Homo sapiens: one gene and its partner. The protein of the gene in region 1 purifies or fractionates together with the protein of each later gene. This does not show direct contact. Each region holds a gene or a part of one and is shown on either strand. Other genes may lie near its edges. The genes, in order: ANKRD18A and TTC33.

What was found.
Region 2: the proteins of ANKRD18A (region 1) and TTC33 purify together in Homo sapiens (affinity purification with mass spectrometry; one large-scale study listed by BioGRID and IntAct). This does not show direct contact.

What each region holds. Positions count from the first base shown.
Region 1 is NC_000009.12:38,593,036-38,596,861, forward strand, and holds part of ANKRD18A (ankyrin repeat domain-containing protein 18A), read right to left. Parts: intron 3,369-3,826; coding exon 2,451-3,368; intron 875-2,450; coding exon 725-874; intron 1-724.
Region 2 is NC_000005.10:40,745,665-40,749,490, reverse strand, and holds part of TTC33 (tetratricopeptide repeat protein 33), read left to right. Parts: intron 1-2,471; 5' UTR 2,472-2,472; coding exon 2,473-2,693; exon of another isoform or gene 2,694-3,826.

The DNA of each region.
Region 1 (3,826 bases):
GAATATACTAACAGACACTGAGTTGTACATTTTAAATGGTTGAACTGTCTGACATGTGAATTATCTCTCAGTGAAACTGTTTTTAAAATCCCATGGTAGGATCCAGATAATTTTCTGAGCTCTCCATTTTGGATGTACATACTCTATTAGATCTGAGTATTTCTACGCCATTACAGTATATTTTAAATGAAAGGAAGATGAAGGCAATGCCTAACTTTTCAAGTAGTTTGTAAATTAACCTAAAACATGTGCATTTCAAAGAACAGTATGATGGCCTTTCTGTACAAGTTAACCTAGAATCCATGAAATGAATACGCACAGCTGCTGTGTCCATTCACAAAAGTGAAGAAATAAGACAACTTGCTGGAATATTCCATTAAACATTCTCTTCTGACTTAATCTGGCTTGCCTCACCAAGGCATTAAGGAAATTATCTAAAAATACTGTTTAACGGGAAAAAAGTCAATTTTCTGTGAGGAATGATGTATTATTCTCAACTTTCCCAAGTGTAGATATTATAAGAGAAAACATATGCAACTATTATTTCAAAATGGCAGAACAAGAGCCAGAGTTGAAGAAGTACGTTATAAAGATAATAAAATGGTAATGATCAATTATAATAAAATATAAAATCAAGCTGTCCACTGAAATTAGTATCCTAAGACACTTTATATTATTCAACCAGCTACAGATTAACTGTCTACATGTTAAATTCCATACATACTTGAATTTCTACTTGAAATAATTTCTTCTTTGAAGTCCATGTCTCATTCAAATTAATATGACAATGTGATGTACCTTCCAGTGGAGACTCTGATATTGAAAATGTTTTAAGGTGATCGACCAGTTCTTCTTGAAATTCTCTCACAATCACCTGACAAAATATTTTTGTTACCAATTTTATAAAGTGGCTTATTATTAAATTATGTTAATATTTAAGTCTAGCATACATACTTTGAAAATTATTACCACACACACAGATTCACTTTCTTTTCCTCATATGTACACTTTCTTCTTTATTACTGAATTCAGTGAGGGACATAGAAGGTGTTATATTCCTGCCAAATTGGTATTCTCTTACATGACAGATTGATCCAGCCCGCTATTCACTCACCTTAGACCCTCAACTCAACCTGAGTTCCTCACATATTCAGTCGCCTGTTGAAATCCTTCCAACGGATTCCTACCTCAGAATAAAATTCCAACGGCCTTCAAGGCCCTAGGTAACATGGCCTCTACCTCCCTCCCTGACCTCAGCTCCTACAACTCTGTCCCGTACAAACTTCAATCCCACTCTCTGTGAACTCTGCCACCCCTCATTAGTCTGAAAATGGGGATTCAATGTCAAACTCATAAATCACAGACAGCTAAAAGTATCTTTGTACTGGAAAGAATTATATCCAAATGATAGTCATTGAGACTTAAAATGTAAATTATGAGCTAATTACTCATAAAAATATTCACAGTAAATTATAAATACCTGCCAGTGGAAACATTACATCAAATATTTTTTTGCTAAAATTTACCACATTTATTCCAAATTGTGATTTTATAACAAGTAGAAGTCTTTAAAATACTAAGTGGTCAGAAAAATACATAATGTGAGACTGACATATTTTCAGACTTAAGTCACATTGGCATGAATCAAAACAAAGTTACACCAACTAAAATACATATAAGAGAGAGCCACTGAAGGAAAAGCATCACAAGACACAGCAACACACTTCAGTTCATCTGGAAAATCTAGAATTAAGTGTCAAAGCAGCTCACTTAATTGAATCTGATTTTCAAAATACACATTTCAGGTACAAGCATTTCCACTTACCTGCTTCATTATGCTCTTAAAATGCGGCAACATGAAGACGTTACATTTCTTATTTCAGTAGTCTAAGACTACACACCTTATCAGCATTGCTCTGCATCTACTAACATTTCATAGGTGACATAATGTCTTTACTCAAAGGAAAGCATCTTGTCAGCTCTACCTTTTATCTCCTGGAAACAAAGCATGTTTCCAAGCTGATATAGTAAACACTTTTTTGGTTTACTAAAACAGCTTTGTTGAAATATGATTTTTATTCAAACAGCTTTGTTGAAATATGATTTATAGAATTTATCTTTTTTAACAAACAGTTCAAAGATTTTTAGTAAATTTACTGTGTCGTGCAACCATCTCTACAATCCAACTTTAGAACATTTTCATCACTCCAGGACAATCCCTAATGCCCATTAGCAGTCACGACCCGCTTCCAGCCCCAGGCCTACACAAACATTAATCATCTTTCTGTCCCTATAGATGTATTTCCTGGATGATTCATGTAAATGGAATTATACAGAATGGTAAACACATTTTCATCTATTTATTTGTATATTGAACTAGGTTCAACATATAGCCAGAATGAAATATTTAAATTTTCTTTCCAGAAGTTTATAGTTTTCTTCATACTTACTTCTCTTTCTGCTTTTTCTTTTTCACACTGAAGCAGTTTTTCTTTTAAATAATTATATTCTTTCATTAATTCCTTATTTCTTTCTTCTAGAAGATCTTCCTTTCCATTCTCAAGACAGTCTCTGTGGATATTAATGACTATCTCTTTATTATCGCCTTCCTTACGAGCATCCTCTAGTTGTCGTTCAAGCAAGAGATTTTCAAGTTCTTGTTGACGTATTCTCTCCTCTAAAGAGTTCTGCTTTCCAATGGATTGACTTTCTTTAGCTTCTCCATTTGGATGCATCTGCTTCATTTCCTTTATTCGATGCTGTGCTTGCCTTAGGTCCAGCTGTACACTTCCTAAAGCCAATGTCTTTTCCCTGAGAGCATCTCTTGTCTCACGGAGCTTACCTTTTAAGGTATTGAACTTCACCCGAGCTTTATGGACCTGTTCAGTAAGCAACTCATTCTTATCTGTTAGTTGAGAAATATTAGAACCCATTTTTTCATGTCTAGAAACATCATCTGCTCTCCATAAAACTAGTTCTAGGTCTTTTCTTTCCACAATTTCATTGTACTCATTTATAGCAGTGGCCAGGCTAGAATGGAGGGATTCAACTTCAGCTTCTAGTCTTTCTTTGTTGTGTTTTTCCTTCTCCAATTCTGAATTCAGCCTTGCATTCTCAGCTTTCAGATCATTAAGCTGTTGCGAATACCGGGCCACTGTTTTTGTTATCATTTTTTCATTGAGTCTTACACTCTTTTCAAAGTTAGCATTTATTTCTGTAATGCTTTTAATTTCCTGAATATATTTCTTTTCCTTTCTGAGACTGTCATTTTTTATTGCATATAATTCCTCTTTGAGCATGGCAATGTCTTTCTTCAACATAAAATTTCCATACATCGCATCCTTCTTTTTTCCGTAACTTTGAGAATCCTAAATAAAACAAAACAAATTTTTAGTTAGCACTCAATAAAATAATCTATGATGGTTATTTCTGAAGTGAAAGAGCAATCTATACATTCATGCAATTAAAAGTTGCTGTAAGTGGATATCCAACTGGAGAAAAAGTTGAAGCAAAACCTTGAACCTTAGAGAACATACATTTCAAAAAGTTCAAAAATGTATTTGAAGTCAATGAATCCATAAAATACACACACACACACTCTAGAGAATTTTTAAGAATATCAGAATTGGAAAAGCCTTTCTCTGAATTACAACAAACTCAAAGCATAAAGTTGTTAAAAAATTTGACTAAATTAAAATCTTGGAAAAAGGAAATTGCATTTATACTCTGATATCTAACCCAGACACCACCCTATAGTAAGACCTTTACCTCGACATCTATTTGGACAGATAAAATCTCTCAAAGTTTTAAAAGTTCTGTTTCCCTG
Region 2 (3,826 bases), on another chromosome or scaffold:
GTTGCTTTTCTTTTCTTTATGTTTTTTGGTTCATTGCTTTTTTTCTCTGTTTCTCTAGTTGATCATTTGATCAAAATCTCCTTGTGGTTATAGACTCCTTTAAGAATGGAATGAAAGCTTAAACACTATTCTCCAAAATGTACACAGATATAAAGAATTTTGTACAATTTATATACAGTTCCCAGTGTTTCTTAGTATCTTGAAGACCATCTATACAACTAGTAAATTTTTGGATCCCTCAGTTAATCTCTTCTCTAAATAAATATTTGTTGAATTATTTCAGGATTTCTGTTAACTTTGTTTTATCATTTATCCTCTCTTTATTTCTTACATTTGTATATCATTGCAGATTTACTGAAAAGTTCAGCATTTGTTATTTATTTATTTTTTGAGATGGAGTTTTGCTCTGTTGCCCAGGCTCACTGCAACCTCCGCCTCCCGGGTTCAAGCAATTCTCTTGCCTCAGTCTCCTGAGTAGCTGGGATTACAGGCATGTACCACCACGCCTGGCTAATTTTTGTATTTTTAGTAGAGATGGGGTTTGGCCAGGCTGGTCTTAAACTCCTGACCTCAAATGATCCACTGGCCTTGGCCTCCCAAAGTGCTAGGATTACAGACGTGAGCCACCGTGCCCGGCCAGCATCTGTTATTTTAAAATTTACCCAATAATTTTGTGAGTTAAGTCGTTTACCAAGTTTGAATCTTTTAAAACCTTTTTATTATGGAAAATTTTAACACATATGAAAGGAAAAAGTACAATGAACACTATGTACTCATCATTCAACTTCATTAGTTATCAATTAAAAGCAATCTAATTTCATGTATATTTTCTCTTGCATTGCACTCCCAACCTCCACTGATTGCTTTAAAACAATTCCTAGATGTCTTATAATTTTATATGAAATATTTCAGTTTATATTTCTAAAACCTAGGGGTTCCTTTTGTAAGCATAATTACAATACCATTATCACACCAAAGAAAAAATAGCCATAATTTGCCAGGTGCGGTGGCTCACGCCTGTAATCCCAGCAATTTGGGAGGGTGAGGTGGGTGGATCACCTGAGGTCAGGAGTTCAAGACCACCCTCACCAACATAGTGAAACTCCATCTCTACTAAAAATATAAAATTAGAAGGGCATTGTGACGCATGCCTGTAATCCCAGCTGCTCGGGAGGCTGAGGCAGGAGAATTGTTTGAACCTGGGAGGCAGAGGTTGCAATGAGCCGAGGTCGTGCCATTGCACTCCAGCTGGGGAAACGAGCAAAACTCCATCTCAAAAAAACAAAACAAAACAGTGATTTCTTAATATCATCAAATATCAAATCGGTGTTCCCATTCCTCCTATTTCATAAATGTTTCCTTCTGGCTGGGTGCAATGGCTCACGCCTGTTATCTCAGAACTTTGGGAGGCCGAGGTGGGCGGATCTCCTAAGGTCAGGAGTTTGAGACCAGCCTGGCTAACATGGTGAAATCCCGTTTCTACTAAAAATACAAAAAATTACCCAGGCGTGGTGGTGCCTGCCTATAATCCCAGCTACTCGGGAGGCTGAGGCAGGAGAATTGCTTGAACCTGGGAGGCAGAGGTTGCAGTGATCCGAGATCGGGCCGTTGCACTACAGCTTGGGCAACAAGAGCAAAACTTTGTCTCAGAAAAAAAAAAGTTTTCTTCTCATTGGCTTTTTTGAATCAGGAGTGAAACAAGATCCACATGTTATGTTGGTTAGTATGTCTCTTAAGTCTCTCTTAATTTAGGGGTTACCTTGTTCTTTCTCTTCTTTCTTTCCTGGCAGTTTATTTCTTGAAGAAACCAGCTTTATTTTCCTTTAGTTTCTGTTTTTTGCTATCTGCATCTCTGATGTGTTATTGAGCATGCTTCACTTTATCCTGTATTTCTTATAGGTAGAGGCCTGATCTGACTCAGGGTTAATTTTTGTAGGAGTACTTACTTCATGAGTGACATGCTACTTCCATCAGGAGGTGTGTGATGTCCAGTTGTCTTTCTTAGTGATGTTAGTGGCCATTGATGATTATTGCCTACAGCCACTAATTAGGGTTGAAAAATGGTGATAGTCTAATCCTGTTATTTCCTCTTTACCTATGGGTTGGAATACTTCCATAAAAGACCAAGTTTTGGGCCGGGCGTGGTGGCTCATGCTTGTAATCCCAGCACTTTGGGAGACCGAGATGGGCAGATCACCTGAGGTCGGGAGTTTGAGACCAGCCTGACCAACATGGAGAAACCCCGTCTCTAGTAAAAATACAAAAATTAGCCGGTGTGGGTGGTGCATGAGTGTAATCCCAGCTATTCGGGAGGCTGAGGCAGGAGAATCACTTAACCCGGGAGGCGGAGGTTACGGTGAGCCGAGGTCGTGCCATCGTACTCCAGCCTGGGCAACGAGAGTGAGACTCCATCTCAAAAAAAAAAAAAGATCAAGTTAGAATTTTAAAGCTGTTTCTTTGTAATTTTCCAGAATGGCTTCCTTTGGGTGGAAGAGGAAAATTGGTGAGAAGGTCTCAAAGGTCACTTCCCAGCAGTTTGAAGCTGAAGCTGCTGATGAGAAGGATGTAGTTGACAACGATGAAGGGAACTGGCTTCATGCCATTAAACGTAGGAAAGAAATTCTTCTTGAAGGCTGTGCTGAGAAAAGTAAACAGCTGAAGGATGAAGGAGCCAGTTTGGCTGAAAATAAAAGGTATGTATTTAAAGTTTTTTTTTTATGGAGAAGAGCTTACATTTTCTAGCTCACTGTCCGTAATGGGATGAAGAGTTATGAATTTGATAAATTCATGTTTAAAAATCTATTCTAGGTGCTAAATTAATCAAAGAAATAAGGTGTTTCAAAGTCACCTGAAAAATGAAAGTTTGTAAAATAGTTTTCAGGATGCAATGAAAGTTTGTAAAATAGTTTTCAGGATGCTAATTATGTCCCTGCTTTGCCATCATTTTTGTTGTGCCTAAAGAAGAGTAAATGCTAAGTAAAATGTAATTCAAGTGATTGGTCAGTAAAAGGTGGTCTTATCACTGGAAACTTTCTGCTTATAACATTATGTATCAGGTAAATTAGGCATTTCCTGAATAGCTTTGAGGGCACATACATAAAAAAAAATAGGTATTTAGTTATTCTTTGCCATTTACTTCTTATATACTTAAGTAAATATGACTTGCTGTACAGGAAGTTGATAATAGCTTCATTTATTTTTAGCCCTTCTTTAGCTAAGTTGTTCCTATATGCACCCATTTCTTTTTTCTTTTTTCCTTTCCTCTTTTTCTTACTTTTTTATTCCTTTTCTCCTTTTTCTGCTTAGATTTTTAAGAAGGACCAAAAATCATTTTTCATTAGTCAGTGGGGAAAAGACAAATTTTTTAGTAGATTCTGTTGAGAAAACTGGATTACTACCTAGAGGAAAATAAAACTGTGTCTGTATCTAATACCATGCACAAAGATGGACCCTGGAGGGATTAAAAATTTGTGAAAGGTAAAACTATGCAATTAATAGAAGAAAATATAGAATGGTATCTCTAATCTATGGTGGAAAAGGCCTTTTTTATTTTGAAAAAATTTCAAATCTGTATTAAAGAATAGTACAACTGGCTGGGTGCAGTGGCTTATACTAGTAATCCCAGCACTTTGGGAGGCCAAGGTGGGAGGATCGCTTGAGCCCAGGAGTTCGAGGATGCGGTGAGCTATGATCTTGCCACTGCCCTCCACCCTGGGCTACAGAGTGAGACCCTGTCAAATAAATAAACAAATAAATAAATCGTATATCTAGTATGATTCCAGTTCCAGTTTTAAAAAATTCTGGCTGTGTGTGGTGGCTTGTGTCT